Regions from separate parts of the Homo sapiens genome. Here regions 2, 3, 4 and 5 are each reported to be linked to region 1. Evidence: microRNA targets listed by miRTarBase, many of them from high-throughput screens and not tested one by one. Region 1 holds a microRNA gene; each other region holds the end of a gene's coding sequence.
Evidence for each region. The annotated mature microRNA hsa-miR-6829-3p reads UGCCUCCUCCGUGGCCUCAG and lies in region 1 at 2,516-2,535, opposite strand. An mRNA with a match to its seed (bases 2 to 7 or 8) in the 3' UTR can be bound and repressed. Matches are read on the target gene's strand: a 7mer-m8 pairs with bases 2 to 8, a 7mer-A1 pairs with bases 2 to 7 and ends in A, and an 8mer does both.

Region 2: miRTarBase lists TESK2 as a target of hsa-miR-6829-3p. Seed matches in the 3' UTR shown: 7mer-A1 at 3,275-3,281.
Region 3: the mRNA of PKNOX2 is a reported target of hsa-miR-6829-3p. Seed matches in the 3' UTR shown: 7mer-m8 at 2,074-2,080.
Region 4: miRTarBase lists C2CD2L as a target of hsa-miR-6829-3p. Seed matches in the 3' UTR shown: 7mer-m8 at 2,640-2,646.
Region 5: miRTarBase lists ZNF8 as a target of hsa-miR-6829-3p. Seed matches in the 3' UTR shown: 7mer-A1 at 2,157-2,163.

What each region holds. Positions count from the first base shown.
Region 1 is chr3:195,879,814-195,883,813 of GRCh38, forward strand. MIR6829 (microRNA 6829) reads right to left here and starts at 2,582; the gene lies at 2,516-2,582. It overlaps TNK2 (tyrosine kinase non receptor 2), which reads right to left. Exons shown (of 16, transcript NM_001382273.1): 5 at 3,344-3,496; 6 at 2,238-2,515. RefSeq lists an enhancer at 3,473-3,973.
Region 2 is chr1:45,341,395-45,345,539 of GRCh38, forward strand. It overlaps TESK2 (testis associated actin remodelling kinase 2), which reads right to left. Exons shown (of 11, transcript NM_007170.3): 11 at 2,489-4,145. The coding sequence ends at 3,446. It overlaps TOE1 (target of EGR1, exonuclease), which reads left to right. Exons shown (of 8, transcript NM_025077.4): 4 at 79-175; 5 at 555-713; 6 at 990-1,249; 7 at 1,449-1,608; 8 at 1,688-2,579. The coding sequence ends at 2,308. Among named protein-coding and RNA genes, the nearest start is that of TOE1, 3.3 kb to the left of the region's middle. RefSeq lists an enhancer at 1-101.
Region 3 is chr11:125,430,569-125,434,713 of GRCh38, forward strand. It overlaps PKNOX2 (PBX/knotted 1 homeobox 2), which reads left to right. Exons shown (of 13, transcript NM_001382323.2): 13 at 598-2,821. The coding sequence ends at 824. Among named protein-coding and RNA genes, the nearest start is that of FEZ1, 64 kb to the right of the region's middle. RefSeq lists a silencer at 2,905-3,199.
Region 4 is chr11:119,115,797-119,119,941 of GRCh38, reverse strand. C2CD2L (C2CD2 like) reads right to left here. Exons shown (of 14, transcript NM_001290474.2): 14 at 1,398-3,897. The coding sequence ends at 3,686. Among named protein-coding and RNA genes, the nearest start is that of HINFP, 3.7 kb to the left of the region's middle.
Region 5 is chr19:58,295,003-58,299,147 of GRCh38, forward strand. ZNF8 (zinc finger protein 8) reads left to right here. Exons shown (of 4, transcript NM_021089.3): 4 at 1-4,145. The coding sequence ends at 534. It overlaps ZNF8-ERVK3-1 (ZNF8-ERVK3-1 readthrough (NMD candidate)), which reads left to right. Exons shown (of 7, transcript NR_144447.1): 4 at 1-579. Among named protein-coding and RNA genes, the nearest start is that of ERVK3-1, 8.3 kb to the right of the region's middle.

The sequences.
Region 1 (4,000 bases):
ACTCGAGATCGCTAAGGTTCATTATCCTCCTTGGTGAAATGAGAACAATAACCCGCCCACTTCATCGTGCTGTTTAAAGGCAACTATATTCATACCTTACCATGCAAACCAGGATGCCTGAATACAAAAGAGGCTGCTCTAAATTACTCCAGGACAACGGGCATAATTTAAGACCTCTGCTCGCCCTGGGTGTAAAGCCAGCTGCTCGTTAAGATGACCATGCGTCCTGGATCATAAGGGTTGCCCACAGCCACCGCTTGGGAAAGCAGAACTGGAACAACCCTTCCCGCCTCAAAGCAGGCAGATCACAGACCTCTGGGTGCCTCTGGCACCAGAGAACCACAATGGTCTCAGCAGAGGATAAGCCCACACAGGGGCCAGGGCAGGGCCAAGTACCACCCCTAGTGCACAGGTAAGCAGCCCTGGCCCATCTACAAGGCCTGCTGTGGCCTGGGCCTGTCTACCACTAGCTCTCCCTAGAACATGCTTACCAACGAGTCTTTCCCTGGCGAACTTCCCTGATGTTTTAGGAAACCTTTGAATACCTCCCCACAGAAATGCCCCTTGGAGAGGACACAGCATCTATCCCTGTAACACCCCCCCAGCAATGCCCCTTGAAGAGGACACAGCATATATCCCTGTATCACCTAACTCAGCAGTGACCCTCGGAGAGGACACAGCATCTATCCCTGTAACACCCCCCCCCCCAGCAATGCCCCTTGGAGAGGACACAGCATCTAACCCTGTAACACCCGCCCCCCAGCAATGCCCCTCGGAGAGGACACAGCATCTATCCCTGTAACACCCCCCCAGCAATGCCCCTTGAAGAGGACACAGCATATATCCCTGTATCACCTAACTCAGCAATGACCCTCGGAGAGGACACAGCATCTATCCCTGTAACACCCCCCCAGCAATGCCCCTTGGAGAGGACACAGCATCTATCCCTGTAACACCCCCCCCAGCAATGCCCCTTGGAGAGGACACAGCATCTATCCCTGTAACACCCCCCCCAGCAATGCCCCTTGGAGAGGACACAGCATCTAACCCTGTAACACCCGCCCCCCAGCAATGCCCCTTGGAGAGGACACAGCATCTATCCCTGTAACACCCCCCCAGCAATGCCCCTTGGAGAGGACACAGCGTCTATCCCTGTAACACCCGCCCCCAGCGATGCCCCTTGGAGAGGACACAGTGTCTATCCCTCTAACACCACCCGCCAGCAATGCCCCTTGAAGAGGACACAGGATCTGTCCCTCTAACACCCCCCCAGCAGTGCCCCTTGGAGAGGACACAGCATCTATCCCTGTAACACCCCCCCAGCAGTGCCCCTTGGAGAGGACACAGCATCTATCCCTGTAACACCCCCCCAGCAATGCCCCTTGGAGAGGACACAGCGTCTATCCCTGTAACACCCGCCCCCAGCGATGCCCCTTGGAGAGGACACAGTGTCTATCCCTCTAACACCACCCGCCAGCAATGCCCCTTGAAGAGGACACAGGATCTGTCCCTCTAACACCCCCCCAGCAGTGCCCCTTGGAGAGGACACAGCATCTATCCCTGTAACACCCCCCCAGCAGTGCCCCTTGGAGAGGACACAGCATCTATCCCTGTAACACCCGCCCCCAGCGATGCCCCTTGGAGAGGACACAGGATCTGTCCCTCTAACACCCCCCCCAGCAACGCCCCTTGGAGAGGACACGGCATCTATCCCTGTAACACCCCCCCCAGCAATGCCCCTTGAAGAGGACACAGCATCTATCCCTGTAACACCCCCCCAGCGATGCCCCTTGAAGAGGACACAGCATCTATCCTTGTAACACCCCCCCCCCAGCAACGCCCTTTGGAGAGGACACAGCATTTATCCCTATAACACCCCCCCGCCAGCAATGCCCCTTGGAGAGGACACAGGATCTATCCCTGAAACACGACCCCCAACAATGCCCCTTGGAGAGGACACAGCATCTATCCCCGTATCACCCCACCCAGCAAAGCCCCTTGGAGAGTCCCACAGCATGTATCCCTGTGATTTCCAGCACCCAGACCCTGGCACGTGGGCCCTCAAGAATTCCTAGATGGATGGTGAGCGAATGGGTGCAAAGGAGGGCACCCCAGGCTTAGAACAGACAAGGGCAGGCCCAAGCAAAACCAGGGGCTGTGGTGGGTCCAGAAAGCCCCAGAAGCTTTGAGGCCTGGGTCTGCAGGGACTCTGTGAGCTGGCAGCACCTGCCCCTCACCAGGCGAAGGGCACCTTGCGATGTTCCTGCATGACGTAATGGTCGTCATTCTGAGGTAGTGCTCGCATCAGCCCAAAGTCCCCGATCTTGACCAGGTCGCGGGTAGCCAACAGCAGATTGCGGGCAGCCAGGTCACGGTGAATAAAGCGCTTGGACTCCAGGTAGCCCATGCCCTCAGCCACCTGCACAGCGTAGCGGCTCAGAGTCCCCAGGAGGAAGTGGCCCTGGTGCTTACGTAGCCGGTCCAACAACGATCCCAGAGGTGCCAGCTCTGTCACCTGAGGCCACGGAGGAGGCAGGAGGAATGAGCTGGAGGACCCTGCCCCTTCTCAGCAGCCCACGCTGGGCCCCCAGTCCCCTTCCTGAAGGCTTTCCAGAGCCAGGCTGCACGCACCTTCCTGGCCTGCTGTCTGGGGACCTCTAGGAGTCCTGCAGTTTCTCAGGCCTCTCCCTCGAGGCAATTTGGGAAACTGATGCCTAGAGAGAAGGAGCCCAAAGAGGCAGTGGCTAGAAATTCCAAAACTCAGCTGGACGTGGTGGCTCACGCCTGTAATCCCAGCACTTTGGGAGGCCGAGGTGGGTGGATCATTTGAGGTCAGGAGTTTGAGACCAGCCTGGCCAACATGGTGAAACCCCGTCTCTACTAAAAATACAAAAATTAGCCAGGCATGGTAGCGCACGGCTGTAATCCCAGCTACTTGGAAGCCTGAGGCAGGAATATCGCGTGAACCCAGGAGGCCGAGGTTGCAGTGAGCCTAGATCATGCCATTGCACTCCAGCCTGGGCGACAAAGTGAGACTCCATCTCAAAATAAATAGATAAATAAAACATAAATTCCCCAAATTAAACTCAGTGGCCAGCCCCTCCCATGGGAGTAACTCTCTTGACACTGAGCACCAGCAAAATCCAGAGACAGACCCGGACTGGACCGCAGCAGACACAGCCCGTACCAGGCTGGGCCCCTGTGGACCCCTTTACTCCATCAGGTTGGGGGACCAAAGTAGGATCTAGGGCGCCTCTGACCTTAGGATGGAGAGAGGAACCGAACCACACATATGGGACCGGAGCCCTCTCCCTGCCCGCCCCCTCCCGCCCGCAGTACTCACCATCTTCATGGGCGGCGTGAGCACCACCCCGTAGAGGCGGATGAGGTTTCGGTGGTCGAGCGAGTGCATGGCATTGACCTCCCGGATGAAGTCGTCCATGGCTTCTGGCTGGCTCAGGACATCGGGCTTCAGGCACTTCACAGCCACACTCACCTGCCCAGAGCGGGATTTGCAAGGACTCAGGACTTGCCAGGTCCCAGACACGCGGAGCCAACCTGCTCCACCCTCCAACTCGGCTCAACGATCCCTGCCTGTGAGCTCCTCATCTGGGTGGGTAAGCATGTCACCAGTGCCTGGGCTTACGTGCTCTGCGTGAGGCCTGGCTGGAGAAGGGCAGACGGCTGGCCCTCAGGAGCCATCGTCGGCCACACCTCCCCTTCCTGGGGGAATGCCGGGCTTAAATACCAACCAAAAAGTAAGAGATAACCAGTATGATGAGAGAATATTCAAATGTTATAAAATGGAATTTTTTTTTTTGAGACAGTCTCGCTCTTGTCGCCCAGGCTGGAATGCAGTGACGTGATCTCAGCTCACTGCAACCTCTGCCTCCCGGGTTCAAGTGATTCTCCTGCCTCAGCCTCCTGAGTAGCTGGGATTACAGGCAGGTGCCACCACGCCTGGCTAATTTTGTATTTTTAGTAGAGATGGGGTTTCTCC
Region 2 (4,145 bases), not on the chromosome of region 1:
GGGGTCACAGACCTGGGTGGTTTGGGTCCTTCATAAGGCTAACTCCTAGCCACAGCAACCCCCATACCCAACCCCAAGGTGCATTGAGGAACGTTACAAGGCCGTGTGTCATGCTGCCAGGACCCGTTCTATCCTTTCCCTGGGCCTCGCCTGCTTCAAGCGGCAGCCAGACAAGGTATGAGCTGATCTCACCCCAATCCTAGGTGTGGCTGTGGGGTGGAGGGTAGAGAGATTCTAGGGAACATCAGATAGGAAGCATTTCTCTCCCAAATCTTTTTTTTTGACTTGATAGTTTTTTTTTTTTTATTTGAATAGGTTTATGGGGAACAGGTGGTGTTTGGTTAAATGAGTAAGTTCTTTAGTGGCAATTTCTGAGATTTTGGTGCACCTATCACCCAGTGTACACTGTGCCCAATGCGTAGTCTTTTATCCCTCACCTGCCTCCATCCTTTCCCCCCTGAGTCCCCAGAGTCCATTGTATCATTCTTAAGCTTTTGCATCCTCCTAGCTTGGCTCTCTGAAATCTTGATATAGCAGACTTCTCTTTCTCCCAGGGTGAACATTCCTATCTGGCTCAAGTGTTCAATCTCACTCTGCTGTGCATGGAGGAGTATGTCATAGAACCAAAGTCTGTGCAGTTCCTGATACAGCATGGCTTCAACTTCAACCAGCAGTATGCCCAAGGCATCCCCTACCATAAGGGCAATGACAAGGTAGGCCTCTAGCCTCCCTAGCCTTGAGTCTGCCCTTTCTGTGACTTTATTTCTTCCTACCCTAGGCTGGATGTCTGGGGAGAATCTGCTTCTTAGGGAGTATGGGGAATCACTAGTGACAGGGCTTGGGAAACAAGACTGGTATGAGGAGGGTGGGCAGCATTGGGTAAGGTAGAGAGAGAGCGTTCCAAGTGGGGAAGTCTGGGATAAGTGCCCAGCAGAAGAGGCTCCCTGGGGGACTCTGTCCTCCTCATTGACCCCTTTACTTTCATCTAGGGTGATGAGAGCCAGAGCCAGTCAGTACGGACCCTATTCCTGGAGCTAATCCGAGCCCGCCGGCCCCTGGTGCTACACAATGGCCTTATAGACTTGGTGTTCCTGTACCAGAACTTCTATGCACACCTCCCTGAGAGTCTGGGAACCTTCACCGCTGACCTGTGTGAGATGTTCCCAGCAGGCATTTATGACACCAAATATGCTGCTGAGTTTCATGCCCGTTTCGTGGCCTCCTACTTAGAATATGCCTTCCGGAAATGGTGAGGAAATGGTTGAGGGAAAGGGGTGGGGCCTGATACGAGTTTATTTCATTCACTTAAGATATTTATTGAGCTCCTACCATGTGCCCAGGCAGTGTTTTAGGTGCTGAGGATTCAGCAGTGAACAAAACAGACCACAAAACCCTGCTCTTATGGAGCTTATATGCTAGTGGACCATTACCCTCTTGCGCTGTTGCAGTGAACGGGAAAATGGGAAGCAGCGGGCAGCTGGCAGCCCACACCTTACCCTGGAGTTCTGCAACTATCCTTCCAGCATGAGGGACCATATTGATTACCGCTGCTGCCTGCCCCCAGCAACCCACCGTCCTCATCCCACCAGCATCTGTGACAACTTCTCGGTGAGAGCACCCACCTGTTTCTTGGGAGGGAAGGTTCTGATGCCTGGAGCCTCTTTCTAAGCCTCTTTCCCACCCCTAGGCTTATGGCTGGTGCCCCCTGGGACCACAGTGTCCTCAGTCTCACGATATTGACCTTATCATTGACACTGATGAGGCTGCGGCAGAGGACAAGCGGCGACGGCGACGACGTAGGGAAAAACGGAAGAGGGCTTTATTGAACCTACCGGGGACACAGACCTCTGGGGAAGCTAAGGATGGTCCTCCCAAGAAGCAGGTCTGTGGGGATAGCATCAAGCCTGAAGAAACCGAGCAGGAGGTGGCTGCCGATGAAACTAGGAACCTGCCTCACTCCAAGCAAGGCAACAAAAATGACTTAGAGATGGGGATTAAGGCAGCAAGGCCTGAAATAGCTGATAGAGCTACCTCAGAAGTGCCAGGGAGCCAAGCCAGTCCTAACCCAGTGCCTGGGGATGGATTGCACCGGGCTGGTTTTGATGCCTTTATGACAGGTTATGTGATGGCCTATGTGGAAGTGAGCCAGGGACCGCAGCCCTGCAGCTCTGGACCCTGGCTCCCTGAATGCCACAATAAGGTATATTTGAGTGGCAAAGCTGTACCCCTCACAGTGGCCAAGAGCCAGTTCTCTCGTTCCTCCAAAGCCCACAATCAGAAGATGAAGCTCACTTGGGGCAGTAGCTGATGCAACTTCCACCTTGCTCTCAGGTGGAACAGAGGTATTTTGGGTCTCTCTAGCCTGAAATGTCATCCTCAACTGCTACTGAGTTTAGGGGAGGGGGAATGTCTTGACAGACATCACTGCATTGCCCTGGACCGCCTCCTTTATCCCAGTGTTTGAGGTACAAGTAAGAAGGCTGACCAGCACCTGTAACACTGACTTTATTTTTAAGTCTGAAAATGTCTTGGGAAAGTTTTACAAAAAAAAAAATCAACAGAAGCAAGTTATGAAAATATTTGACCAGCTTCATCTTTGGTTATTTCTTATTGCAGCTCTGTAAGGACAGACTGTTCCCAAAGCTCCAGCCATGGCAGGAAGGGAAGCAAATCAGTCCCTGTATAAACCATTTAACCAATTGAATGTATCACATGTTGATAAATACATAGAAGCAGGCCCTAGGGCCTACAAAACCAGCCCCACTCCCAACCACAAGGTTGAAAGTCTTATGGGGCAGAACATTAAGACTCCTTTATAAATATGAAAATAGATTAATCAACAGGAAAAGGTCTTTGAATAGGTTAGCTAAGAGCCATGACCACCACGCTGCCTTGCTGTCCCCTTGCATAGAAATGTAGTGACGTGGTCTGACCATGCAGTAAGTGCAAACAGCAATTACTCAAATGTCTTAGAATACTGGCAAGAAGCACCCCAATATTCAGGTCTGGGAAACAGCCATGACCATTACGGCCTCTTGATCAGCTCCATGTTCCACTCAGTAGCTTATATGCCCCAAGAAAAGGCAAGAGACAGACCTGGGGTGGGGAAAGAACCGGGGTAATAGCTGCCTGCCAGCTCAGCCTAGAACTAGACATCCTCTGGTCCTATCTGGGGAAGTACACTGGAGAGGGTCTGGTGGGAGGCAGACCTCCTTGCTGGATTTCAGAGGCTTGGTATCAGCTGTTGGCCCTAACTAGGAAGGCCTCTCACTGCTGCCTCCCGTCATACACAGCCAATGGGCACTGGGAGCCCAGAAGTTGAGCCTGGCTTGGCCTAGCCTGCCTGCTCTGTAGGCTCCAGGGAAGAATCAAGGCTGTGCACCTAGGGGGCCATATGGTTTCAGCTGAAGGTCCATCCCCAAGGTGAGGCAGGGACTAAACCCCCTCACCCATCCTGCTTTCCCTGGGTTTGCAGGCCTATGCCTGAGGTGGAGAAGGTGGCTGGAGTTGAGCCTGCTGGCCTTTCTTCTACCTCCATCTCCTCAGAAGCACCCGCAGGGCATGGACTGGTCCCCTGGGGCCTGGACCCAAAACCATTTTCTTCCTGGAGAATGGAGCAGTCCATAGCCTCATGGGCTTGAGCAGCTGGTAGGGCAGATGCCCGGAATGGTGGGATCTCTTTAACTCTGTACTTGAGACTACTTAGGCGTGGTGGGGGCCCATCAGATAGCGATTCTTCCCGGCCCACAAATGGACAAGCCTCTTGATGCAAGAACTCAGGCGAACCAGGCAAGGAACGCCACCGGCGAATAGGTGGGGCCAGGGGCTCCTGCCAGTCAGCCAGGGGCATAGTTCCGGGCCCTGGTGCATCCAGGTCAAATACCAGAGAGATGACAGACTTGCTGGGCAGGTCAAAAAACTTGATCTTGCCCCCCATGAGGTCCTGGCGAGCACTAAAAGGGTTGACTTTGGGGGTGCGGGCAGCACCATCTCGTGGCCGGTAGTATGGGTCCAAGACACTCACTGTACGTGGGGGCTTACGGGAAAAGATATCTGACTGGCTTCGAGACAGCCAGATGGTACGTCTTGGGCATGGTGACTTGTGGGGGATCTTGTCATCCAGTGAGCTTAGTCGCTTCACCCCA
Region 3 (4,145 bases), not on the chromosome of region 1:
TGCCAGTCGCCTAGTGCACAATGAATAATTCAATGAGCCAAGCATTTTATAGCTTGGCATATGAAGATAGCTCTGTATGGGGAGTGGAGCGTAGGTGTGCGTGTGTGCACACATAACCTCATGCACACGTGTATGTGTATGGTTGTGCACAGGTTCCTTTGTGATGAGCCATCTTATGGGTTATGATGGGAAAAAAAAAAACAGATTTAGGGGGCTGGACCAGCCTGGGAGAAAATTCCAACTCTGTCATCGCTGACAATGTCATCTTGAGCTAATGACTTAACTGTCTGAGACAGAATGGGGATAATAATACCTGCCTTACAGAATTGTTAGAAAGTCAAAAGTGGCCAACACATAAAGAAAATGTGCAGTGAACGGTGGCTGGGAGTGCTGCTTCCTGAGATGGGGCAGGGAGTAGCTGACTAGTGAATGGATGGGAGACTTCATACCAGGGCATTGTCCAGCTCAGGCTTGGACAGCTCTAAAAACAAGGAGTTCACTGCTCTATGAGCCAGTCCATTAAACCCTGTCCAACACAGAGGTGCTGGCCCTGACCAGCAGCCCCTGCCTCGTCCTGACCCTTGCTTTCTCTCGCAGGTTCCATCAACTTGGACAACCTGCAGTCCCTGTCCTCAGACAGTGCCACCATGGCCATGCAGCAGGCTATGATGGCTGCACACGATGACTCATTGGATGGGACAGAAGAAGAGGATGAGGATGAGATGGAAGAGGAGGAGGAGGAGGAGCTGGAGGAGGAGGTCGACGAGCTGCAGACGACAAATGTCAGCGACCTGGGCTTGGAACACAGTGACTCCCTGGAGTAGTCGGGCAGCCCAGATGGCACTGATCACTGAGCAGGAGAGGAGTGTCGCCGGGAGGCCTTCAGGGTGGGGGGGAAGGGGACATGGGCAGGAAGCACCGAGGGAGTTGGGCCCTAGCTTCCCCAAATCAGTAGCTTGAAGAAAGGCAAAGGAGACACCTGTTCCTTCCCAACCACCGAGCTTCAATGAGGACCCCAGCCCCACTTCCCTGGAACTGCCGAGGACTCTGTTTGGCGGGGCCAGTCGAGCAGCCTGTGTGGAAAGACAGGAGTGAGATCTGGACTCACCAAATCCCTGAGGATAGATGGCACCCATGGCCCCCACCCACGGAAGGACTTGAGTTGTTTACAAGCCCTGCACTGAGGCAGATTGGTGCTGTTCGCAGAGTAGGCCTTTGCCCGGGGGCAGACTTAGAAGGAAGGGGAGAGACAAAGGGGGACTGAGTTTCATCCCCAGAAGTTTCTCAGCTCCTTTGACAGACATTCAAGGGCAGGAGGGAGCCCCAAAGCATAACCAGTGGCCAGAGGAGTGGGAGGGCCTGAGGCATCACATCTTGCAGATCAGAATGGGATGGAATCCACCAGGCTCCAGCTCATCCCTCCAAGGCCCTGTCTCTGCGCACAGCAACCATGGACATGGGAGAAAGGGATGGGAGCCACAGTGCCCTTCACTCTCTCCTGGAAACCAACTGTAAGCTGGTGGGCTCAACCTGTGGGAGGTTAAGAGGAGTCCCTTCTGGGTTGACTCCAAGAGCCAAGGAGATGGCAGACCCTGGGCTAGGAACCATATGGAGGTGACTTTGAGGCCACAGCTGTCCCTAGGTGATCACAGAACTTAGCTCCTTTAACAACAGGACAATGGTTTTTTACCCTAGATGTTCCCACCTTCAGTGCTCCACGCCCTCCATAGACCTTCAGAGAAGGTGAAACCAGGTTATCTGGGAATCTTTCCAGCCCGCAGGTCGCCACGGCCATCCCTTTGCTCCCAGCCTGGCTCCATCAGCCTCCAGCTTCCTTTCTTCATTCTGTCCTTCAGGGAAGGCAGAAGAAACATTGGAAAGCATCTAGTCCAGTGGGAAGCCAGGGGTTGGAGAAGGTGCTACATCCCTCTTCCCATCAATATCCTAAATGTGGGGGAGGGCCCAGAGAATGGCACCCAAGAGCCTGCGGGGATGCCCATCCCACACACCCCACCCAGCTGTTCTAACCCTGCTATCCACAGCCCTGGAGGAACTGGGGCTCCTGGAAGGAGGAGGAGGCTCTCCACTGTCCACCCTAACACATACCCTCCCACCCACCTTCCAGACCCCCTTGGTTGGCACCCTCTCCTCCGGTTCCCTCTCACCCCATGGCTGTGAATGACAGGACAGGTCACACGTGTGTTTTCCATTGGGTTTAATTTAATGGACGTGCAGTTTCATTTGTAAATTGTGCATTGGCCACCTCCTTCAGTGGCAGGATGTGAGTGGCTACCTGGCTCAACTGGAGGGGACCCCTTGGGCCCTCTGGGGCTTCCCCTCCCCCACCTGGTTGGGGTAGAGCAAAAGGATGGTCACTCTTCCGAGGTCTCCCTGAAATGAATGTATTTCTCCCCCAAAAGAGCTGATATTTAATGTTTTAATAAGGATTTTTGAGAAACAAATAACCTTATTTATAATCTGGGTGATCCAATCATTTTTTACTCCCTTTTGATGCCATACATAGAGGAAAGTCTAGCTTTTTTGGCGTGAGACTTTTGCAATGTGCAGTGGGATAAAATGCATTTCCTTTTCTGGTTCGTTTTTCTTGTTAACACGCGCACACAGACACACACACACACCGTTCCACTCACCACCTGGACAGGCGTCCCCCAGCACGGACACACTGGCACACAGGTGCCCACATCTCTTCCTCTCAGCCCCTCCACCTGCCTAATGTTATGCAACCTCCTTCTGATGTATCCACCAAACCAGTACTGAATGTGGCCGAGACGTTTTCAGTAAATCTTATTACCTACCGTAACCCTGGTGCACAATTCTCTTTCTGTGGTTGCTGTGGCAATCCTTTGCTCTTTTCATGGGACCAGAGGCCAGACAAAATTTGGAGGCCTCAGTATACACCTGACTACCCAGGGAAGGGGACAAGGTAGATGTGCGTCCTGCGTGAGCTCAGCTGCCCTGTCTGGGGAGGAAGAGCCAATTTCAGCACACTCACCTTGTGTGCGGCCGGTTGTAAGGCAGAGCTAGGGAGAGAAGGCAAGGAAGCTCTGCACTGCCCTCTCCTGACAGCTTCCCCGACCGCAGCGGAAGCTATGAATCTGGTCCCTCTTGTCCACCATACTCCACCTCCCTCAAAGGCTTTTGCTTTCCTGTCTCCATTCCCGGCCTTGAATCCCAGGGATCAGCACCATAATCCCCCAGGCAAGAAGAAACTCAGGCAGCTGATCTCCACACAGAAGTGAGAGGCAGGCCTTCTTGTCAGCTCCAGACGAGAGGGTACCTTCTTTAGCCACACTTGCTGAGAGGTCTGGGGCATCTGTTTAGAAGCAGGAAGGGAGTGCCTTGTTCATGTTCAGGAATGCTGGAGAGTTTGCACGTACTGGCAGATCACCCCATGGCCAGGTGGAAGATAGGGAAGCCAGTGGTTGGTTACACAGGCGAAGTGGGCTCTGACCAGCTCTGGTGGAGTTCCCTGCATCACTGCCCTCAGGGAGCCCAACATCTCTCCCCCTCCTCACACCTGGAGAGAGTTCTGCAAACCCTACAGAAACCCCGCCTCTCTAGGTAGAGGAAGAAAATCTTAAGAACTGCACGATGATTGGAACCTCACCTCCAGAGCTGGGAAGACAACAGTCCTTTAAGACAGTGGTTTCTAAGGAACACACTGTTGAAAGATATGCTACCAAAAAAAAAAAAAAAAATCCATGCCCAAATTAGCCTAAGATTAACTGCATATTCTGTTTTGTTAGTAGAGTTTCATCATGCACATTATTATACTAAAGGCTCTAAAAAGTCCTACAGGAAAGAAACCTGTTGAACTTTGTTTCAATTGTTCCGAGATTTGCTCCACCTCCCTTTTTTTCAAGTAATATCTATTCAAGTTATACCAATATTCCACAAAACACACTTTAGGGAACACTATTCTAAAGAAATTGCAGAGTAGCCTGTCCTACACTCTCCCCGCCAAGTTTTTCTATCAAGTTCTGCCAGCCATCTTTTCAACCACGCTGCCAACTGAAAGTGGGTTTCTTTTTTCTTTTCTTTTTTTTTTTGAGATGGAGTTTTGCTCTTGTTGCCCAGGCTGGAGGGCTGGAGTGCAATGGCACGATCTCGGCTCACCGCAACCT
Region 4 (4,145 bases), not on the chromosome of region 1:
CATTGTAGTTTTCTGTATCTTCTAATCTAAAAATAAACCTATATAATTTGTACAATCAGAAAACACATTAAATGTTCAATATATATAAAATAAAATTTAAAATGCCATTAAGATAGTAAAGTCATACTTGTGCATAAATTTTGGTTTTAACAACAGTGAGTTATAACTTGGTCCCTATTTTAAAATAGGGTTTTGCAGGGCGCGGTGGCTCATGCCTGTAATCCCAGCACTTTGGGAGGCCGAGGCGGGCGGATCATGAGGTCAGGAATTCGAAACCAGCCTGGCCAACATGGCGAAACCCCATCTCTACAAAAAATACAAAAATTAGCCAGGTGTGGTGGTGGGTGCCTGTAGTGCCAGCTACTCAGGAGGCTGAGGCAGGAAAATCGCTTGAACCTGAGAGGCAGAGGTTGCAGTGAGCCAAGATCACTCCACTGCACTCCAGCCCGGGCAACAGAGAGAGACTCTGTCTCAAAAAAAAAAAAAAAGCGTTTTAAAAAATGTAATTCAAAAGTAACAAAATATATCTTACCAACTTTATTCATTCAAAAATGCATATAGTAGTACTTCATGAAATGCCATCCTCATTTTAATTCAGATTTACACCACTGAAAATAGCTTTTAGCTTTATTTAGCAATTTTATGAAGAAAAAGTTCATTCACAGAGCTGTGTAAACTCAAACATAGGTTACAGAGCAAAAATTTCAGGATTGCTCTGGGATCCATATATATGTTTCCAAAATTTAAAGCAGTGTCATTCTGTCTAGCATAGTTTACTTCTATCTCAATCTGCTTCTCTTGAAAACAAGCCACAATTTTGGCTGGGTAATTCAGACATATCCTGAGATTTGTTCTTTAAAAGCTGCCACAAAAACTGAAAGCATAATTCATACTCATTAAAAGCTGTGGATCCCTTCTGAAAGTGTGAAATGGATTAAGTTGATGAAAATATGTTTCGTATTTTTTTCATTCATTTAAAAATTCCCTATTTTTGAAACGTGATCAGGCTCTTCTTCACTAAAATATGTGATTCCATGGAACTCTGGGCAGCTCAGTACTGGAAGCTCAATACAGATTCCAGTTACCATCTACTCATTCCCCAGGTCCTGTAGAACTCTGAATACCTGTTCTCCCATCAACAAAAGTTTCTTGTGCAATCACAAGTTCACTGTGTTTGGTTGTCGTGTCATACTGGTAGAAAAACTGTTCCTCTGTGAACCACTAAGAGTTACATTTCTTAGACTGGGGAAACAGCTTGAAAAATCTCTTTGAATTTTCATGACTTAGAATTGAACATTTCACTACATAAAAATCAACCAAATCGATGTGTCCATCAATGGAGGATTGGATAAAGAAAACGTAGTTAATGTAGTGAGTGATAAAGAAAATGCAGTTTATAAACTCCAACTTGACTTTAATAAATTAAATTCCAAGCTGTCACACAGCAATGGACATCATTATCATCGCCCAACACACACACACACAGTGGAATACTACTCAGCCATAAAAAAGAATGAAATCATGTGTTTTCCAGCAACATGGGTGGAACTGGAGGCCATTATCCTCGGTGAAATAACTCAGAAACAAAGTCAAATATGGCATATTCTCATTTATAAGTGGGAGCTAAATAATGGGTATACATGGACATATAGAGTGGAATAAAAGACATCGGAGACTATGAAAGGTGAGAAGGTGGGAGGAGGGTGAGGGTTGAAAAACTACCTATTGGGTATGATGTTCACTATTTGGGCGATGCGCACACTAAAAAAAGCCCAGACTTCACCTCTATGCATGCAATATATGCATGTAAGAAACCTGCACTTGTCCCCCCAAATATATAAAACTAAATTATCTAATTGAAAAAAAAAATCTATACCCTCCATTCTTCCCGGATATCTCATATTTGGTGAGTAGTGTGGACAGGAGCATGGGGAATAGTAACAATTTCCACATGCTATCTACCCAAAGGCATGTGCCCTAAACACCCTGAGATATAGGTAGTCATAGAATGTCAAGGCTGGAAGTGACCTGAATGTTTATCCAGGTCACCCTTATTTTAGATATGAGGAAACTGAGGTCCCCAAAGGAGAAGTTGCCTGCTCAAGATCACTTGGTTTGTCTGTGGCAGACTCAGTTTTCTTGCTTCCTGGTCCTGCATTCTGCCCAATATCCTGTAGCAGCTTACCTGGTTCAAGTCCTGTATAAGATCTCAAGCACGGGAACCAGGGACACAGTTTGCTAGGATCTATCAATCCCTGAAATTTGCCCACATTTCAGAATGAGAGAGCTTTTATTATGTTGAAACACTTCTAAGACTTCCCCCTCCCAGTTTCTTCTGAGGCAACAGTTAACACTCAGCACTTCATTTACTTCTCATCCACAACCAAATGATAGCCATGATGATTGAAGTTCCCATTTTACAGATGAGAAAACTGAGGCACTTAGAGGTTACATAACTTGCCCAAGGTCACACAAGTAATTAGAAGAGCTGGGACTCAAACCCAGGCAGGCAGTCTAGTTACAGGGTCCAAGCTTTGATCTCCATTACATCCTAGAAGGAGCAGCCTGTTCCAGAAAGGGGAATGAAGACTAACCTGTACTAGTTGATTGAGTTTTTTGCTACAATTTCATACTCCAGAGCCTCCTGTCTCTTCCATCCTTTCTCTGCACACCCCTTCTTCCCTGCAGGAACTTCTTAGCAGATCCACAATGTGTGTCATCTACCCAACCTCATTATCCGGGCCCCTGTCTCATCCTCCCACACCATCCATGTCACAGCCTGGCTGCCTACTGCCTTTCAAAGGATAACCAGTTGTCCAGTTTATAAACTCCAATTTGACTTTAATAAATTAAATTCCAAGCCATCACACAGCAATGGACATCATCATCGTCTCCCAACACACAGAGGTGCAGCCTTGCGTGGCTCCATCATCACAGTCTTTAAATAAAGCCCCTAAAGCCATCTCTCTGGGGAAGGCTTCCCACCAGGCTCCCGGCTCCCTCCTTCCCACAGAGCCACTGCTCACAGAGAAGGCATCAAGTACAAAAAACGGTAATAAAGGGGGAGGGAGGGATGAGGAGCAGGAGGGGAGGCAGGAAGGTGGGGAGTACCTGCCCCCCATCCCGGGCCGGCCCTGCTCTCTGTGAGCTGCCAACATTCTCAGAGGCAGACACTGGTGCTGGTCTGAGTGGGGACCTGAGGGAGGTGTGGGAGCCCCATCCCAAAGGGAATTACCCACCCTCCTGGGACAGAAAAGAAGGGTCACCTGGGAGAGATGCCCTCTATCATCTGTTCACGGAGGGTCCTAAGCCACACATATAAATAGAAAAGAGAATAAATAAGGGAAGAAGGGTCAGCTGAAGAGCTGAGCACCCTGGGACTCCGCTCAGGGACCAGGCTCAGCAGGAGGCAAATGCTTCTGGGGAATACCCACACATGCCGGACAGGGCCCTCCTCTCCCTCCCAGCCACCAGTCCCTCGTCCATGTCCTCGGCACCGGGTGCCCACCTCTCATGTGCTTCCCGTTCCAAGTATCCTTCCAACCGGCCCCATGGCCCAGGGTGGACGGGGCTTCCCGGAACCCAGAGGGCTTTCCTGGCCCAGGCACTGGAGATCCAGGAAGGGGTATGGAAGGGGAGGTGGGGAATGGGCTGAGAGAACTCGTGCCCTTTCAGAGCTGGGTCCTCAGAGCTGGGGGCTGGGGTTACCATTGGCCTTGGGTTTGGATTTGAAGGAAAAGCGCTTGATAAGGCGGCGAGAAAAGCTGCCGGCCTTCTTTCGGACACTGGGCGTGGCCGTTGCGTTGGAGAGGTCATCGTGTGATTGGCTCAGGCCAGCTTCCTTCTGCCTAGGCCTCCGGCGGAAGATGAGCTTAGTGCCGCTGCGCAGGAAACTCACTGCAGGGGAAGAGGGGAAGCTGAGGCAGAGAGGGGCACGGGGTGGGGTGAGACGGGGGCAGAGACACGATGGAGAATGGAGGGAAAGAGGATGTGGACAGGATCAGTCCCGTGGCCCAGAAGCCAGGCTTCCTCAGGAAAGAAAGCAGAAACATACTTCTCCATAAGGCTTCGTGAAAAAAAGAAAAAAGAAAACGAAAGCAGAAACAAACATGTGCTTTATCCTTCCTGAGGCAAAAATCGTGGTA
Region 5 (4,145 bases), not on the chromosome of region 1:
TGTAACCACTGCGGGAAGGGCTTCAGGCACAGCTCATCCCTGGCCCAGCACCAGCGGAAGCACGCGGGGGAGAAGCCCTTTGAGTGCCGCCAGAGGCTGATCTTTGAGCAGACGCCAGCTCTCACAAAGCATGAATGGACAGAAGCCCTGGGCTGTGACCCACCTTTGAGTCAAGATGAGAGGACTCACCGAAGCGACAGACCCTTCAAATGTAATCAGTGTGGGAAGTGTTTCATTCAGAGCTCTCACCTCATCCGGCACCAGATAACTCACACCAGAGAGGAGCAGCCCCATGGGCGAAGCCGGCGGCGTGAACAATCCTCGAGCAGGAACTCACACCTGGTTCAGCATCAACACCCGAACTCCAGAAAGAGCTCTGCAGGCGGAGCAAAGGCAGGGCAGCCGGAAAGCAGAGCCCTGGCTTTGTTTGACATCCAAAAAATCATGCAAGAGAAAAACCCTGTGCACGTTATTGGGGTGGAAGAGCCTTCTGTGGGTGCTTCCATGTTATTTGACATCAGAGAATCCACATAGGAGAGAAACTTTGCTGATGACTTTTAACCACAAGTAAAAAATGTGGTAAGTCCACATAGTGTACTCATGGAAGGAGGGGCTGGGGGTAGAAATGTCATGGGTGACTTCTGACTTTCTAAGGAAATGATGCTTCCCAAGCACCCGAGGTTGGTTGGTCCCAAATCTATCAAACTCAGTGCCCTCTTTAGCGACATATTTTGTGACATTCCTTCCATTACACCACAGTGAGTTCACAGGTAATATAACCTACCCACCTGTGTAATGTCAAAAAAAATCAATATGCGGCCCCATTTTGTAAAGGATCATTAAAATGAAAGTAATTTATGGTAGAGTAAATTGTAGAGTAACGTGTACTGACTTGGTGCAGTATTTCTCCTTGTCACTGTGGGCCCAATTTTGCCAGGAGACCTAGGGCAATAGCCTGTTGCTTGTGGACTGGTAGAGGGTATGATGTTGACCATGGCAATACTGTGAGGGGCCTTCCCATGTGGAACGTGACCTTCCAAAGTAGTGACTAACTCTTGGAAAAGTTTTTAACAACATAATATGCTATTGCATTTCTGGGAAATTCTGGGTAAATTCCAAGCATGCAGCAATTAGTTTGTGCTTATGTGTGAAGTCCAGTTAGGTTCTCAGTTCATACCCTGAAAACTGCTTATTCCACATCTGTTGATGTGGTCCACTGGGGGCAGTTCTGTTCCTCACCATCTTGGCAGCATGCATGGCTCCTGCCCACATTTCAACCACACCCCCAACCCAATTACGTGACCAGCCCCCACGAAATTTCACAGCATTCCGTGCAGGGGAGTGTCACAGCTCCTCTTGAAAAACATCTGGTGTTGCTATGAGCCAGAAGTTCTTTTTTTTGTTTTTTGTCTGAGATGGAGTCTCGCTCCGTCACCCAGGCTGGAGTGCAATGGCGCAGTCTGCTCACCACAACCTCCGCCTCCCAGGTTAAAGCAATTCTCCTGCCTTAGTCCCCCGAGTAGCTGGGATTACACGCACCTGCCACCACGCCCAGCTAATTTTTGTATTTTTGGTAGAAATGGGGTGTTGGCCAGGCTGATCTCAAACTCCTGACCTCGTGATCCACCCACCTCGGCCTCCCAAAGTGCTGGGTTTACAGGCATGAGCCACTATGCCCAGCTGAGCCAGAGGTTCTTAACTGGTGGTGCTTTTGCCTCCAGGGCACATTTGGTGACATCTAGGGACATTTTTGGTTGCTGTGCCTGGAGGAAGGGTGCCGCCGTCATGTAGTGGGTAGAGGCCAGGGACGCTGCTCAACATCCTTTAGTGCCCGGGACAGCTCCTCAACAAAGGATTCTCTAGCTCAAATGTCAATAGTGCCAAGGTGGAGAAGCCACCTGGGTATAAACCCAGCCCAGAAATGTAGCTGACATTTTTAAAACTTGCAGCCAGCTGTGGTGGCTCACGCTTGTGATCCCAGCACTGTGGGAGGCTGAGGAGGGCGGATCCTTTGAGGTCAGGAGTTTGAGACTAGCCTGGGCCCATGGCGAAACCCCATCTCTACTAAAAATACACAAATTAGCCAAGTGTGGTGACATGCGCCTGTAATTCTAGCTACCTGGGGGAGGCTGAGGCACGAGAATCGCTTGAACCTGGGAGGCAGAGGTTTCAGTGAACCGAGATTGCACCACTGCACTCCAGCCTGGGTGACAGAGCAAGACTCTGTCTCAGAAAAAAAAAAGAAAAGAAAAAAAACCTTCAAATTGATTAATCAGGGCTGGACTAGACTAGAAATCATATAAGCTTGATTTTAACAGATGGCATCATTAGCTAGTTTATACATGATGTACTTTTTAGTACATCCTTTACGGTTTTGCAGCATTCATAATTGATGTGAAATAAGGAAGATAATCCTTTTTTTTTTTTTGAGACAGAGTCTCACTCTTTTGCCCAGGCTGGAGTCAGTGTTGTAATCACTGCTCACTTGGCAGCCTCGACCTCCTGGGCTCAAGTGATCCTCCCACCCCAGCCTCCCAAGTAGCTGGGACCACAGGCATGTGCCACCATTCCTGATTTTTTTTATTTTTTGCAGAGACAGGGTCTCACTGTGTTGCCTAGGCTGGTCTCGAACCTTGGCGTCCCAAAGTGTTGAGATTATAGGCATGAGCCACTGTGCCCAGCCACTTATTTTTCTGAGTAACCTTTAAGGATGTATTGTGGACATTTTCAAACATGAGTCATATATTTTTGCTGGTACTCCCATCTACCTCCCCACCATTCTCCTTCCCTGGATATATATATAACCATGTTTGTCCACTGGGACAAAACCATTTTCACAATCATACTAAGCTGTCATTTCACATTTTTGCTGTGCACTGATAGTGTGAAAGCAATGGCAGGTAAAACTGCTGAGCCTGAGTTCAAAGCAGGGCAGTAGCCCTGAGGTTGGTTGTTCATATTCTTCTCCACTGGGAAATGCAGTAAAGAAAAAGAAAAGCTAATTTCACTTAATTTCTTTTCTTTTCTTTTTTTTTTTTTTCTTTTGAGACGGAGTCTCGCTCTGTCGCCCAGGCTGGAGTGCAATGGCGTGATCTCGGCTCACTGCAACCTCCACCTCCACGGTTCACGCCATTCTCCTGCCTCAGCCTCCCGAGTAGCTGGGACTACAGGTGTGCGCCATCTTGCCCAGCTACTTTTTTGTATTTTTAGTAGAGATGGGGTTTCACCATGTTAGACAGGATGGTGTCGATCTTCTGACCTCATAATCCGCCCACCTCGGCCTCCCAAAGTGCTGGGATTACAGGCATGAGCCACTGCGCCTGGCCCTCTTTTTCTTTTTGAGATGGAGTATTGCTCTGTCGCCCAGGCTGGAGTGCAGTGGCACAATCTTGGCTCACTGCAACCTCCGCCTCCCGGGTTCAAGCAGTTCTCATGCTTCAGCCCTCTAAGTAGCTGGGATGACAGGTGTGCGCTACCACACCCGGCTAATTTTTGTATTTTTAGTAGAGATGGGGTTTTACCATGTTGGCCAGGCTGGTCTCAAACTCATGACCTCAAGTAATCTGCCCGCCTCAGTCTCCCAAAATGCTGGCATTACAGGCATGAGCCACCGTGCCTGGCCTACTTTCACTGAATTTCTGTGATGAAACGGGAAAAATTAATTTTGTTAAATCTCAAGTAGAACTATATTGTCATTATCACATCTAAACAGATATCATCAAATACCTAGTGTTCAGATGTTCTGGGTTGCCTCATAAATTTTGTTTTCTATTTGTTTCATAGTAATCATAATCTAAACAAGATCCACACAGTGCATTTGGTTGGAATTTTTCTTTTTTCTTTTTCTTTTTTTTTTTTGTGATGGAGACTTGCTCTGTCACGTGGTTCACTGCAACCTCCCAGGTTCAAGCAATTCTCCTGCCTCAGCCGCCCCTGTAGCTGGGACTGCAGGCATGCACCACCACACTCAGCAGATTTCTTAATTGTTTGTAGAGATGGGGTTTTACTACATTGCCTAGGCCAGTTTCAAACTGGGCTCAAGCGATCCTCCCACCTTGGCCATCCAAAGTGCTAGGATTACAGGTGTGAGCCAATGCACCCTGCCAAACAGCAATTTTTTTTTTTTTTGAGACAGAGTCTCGCTG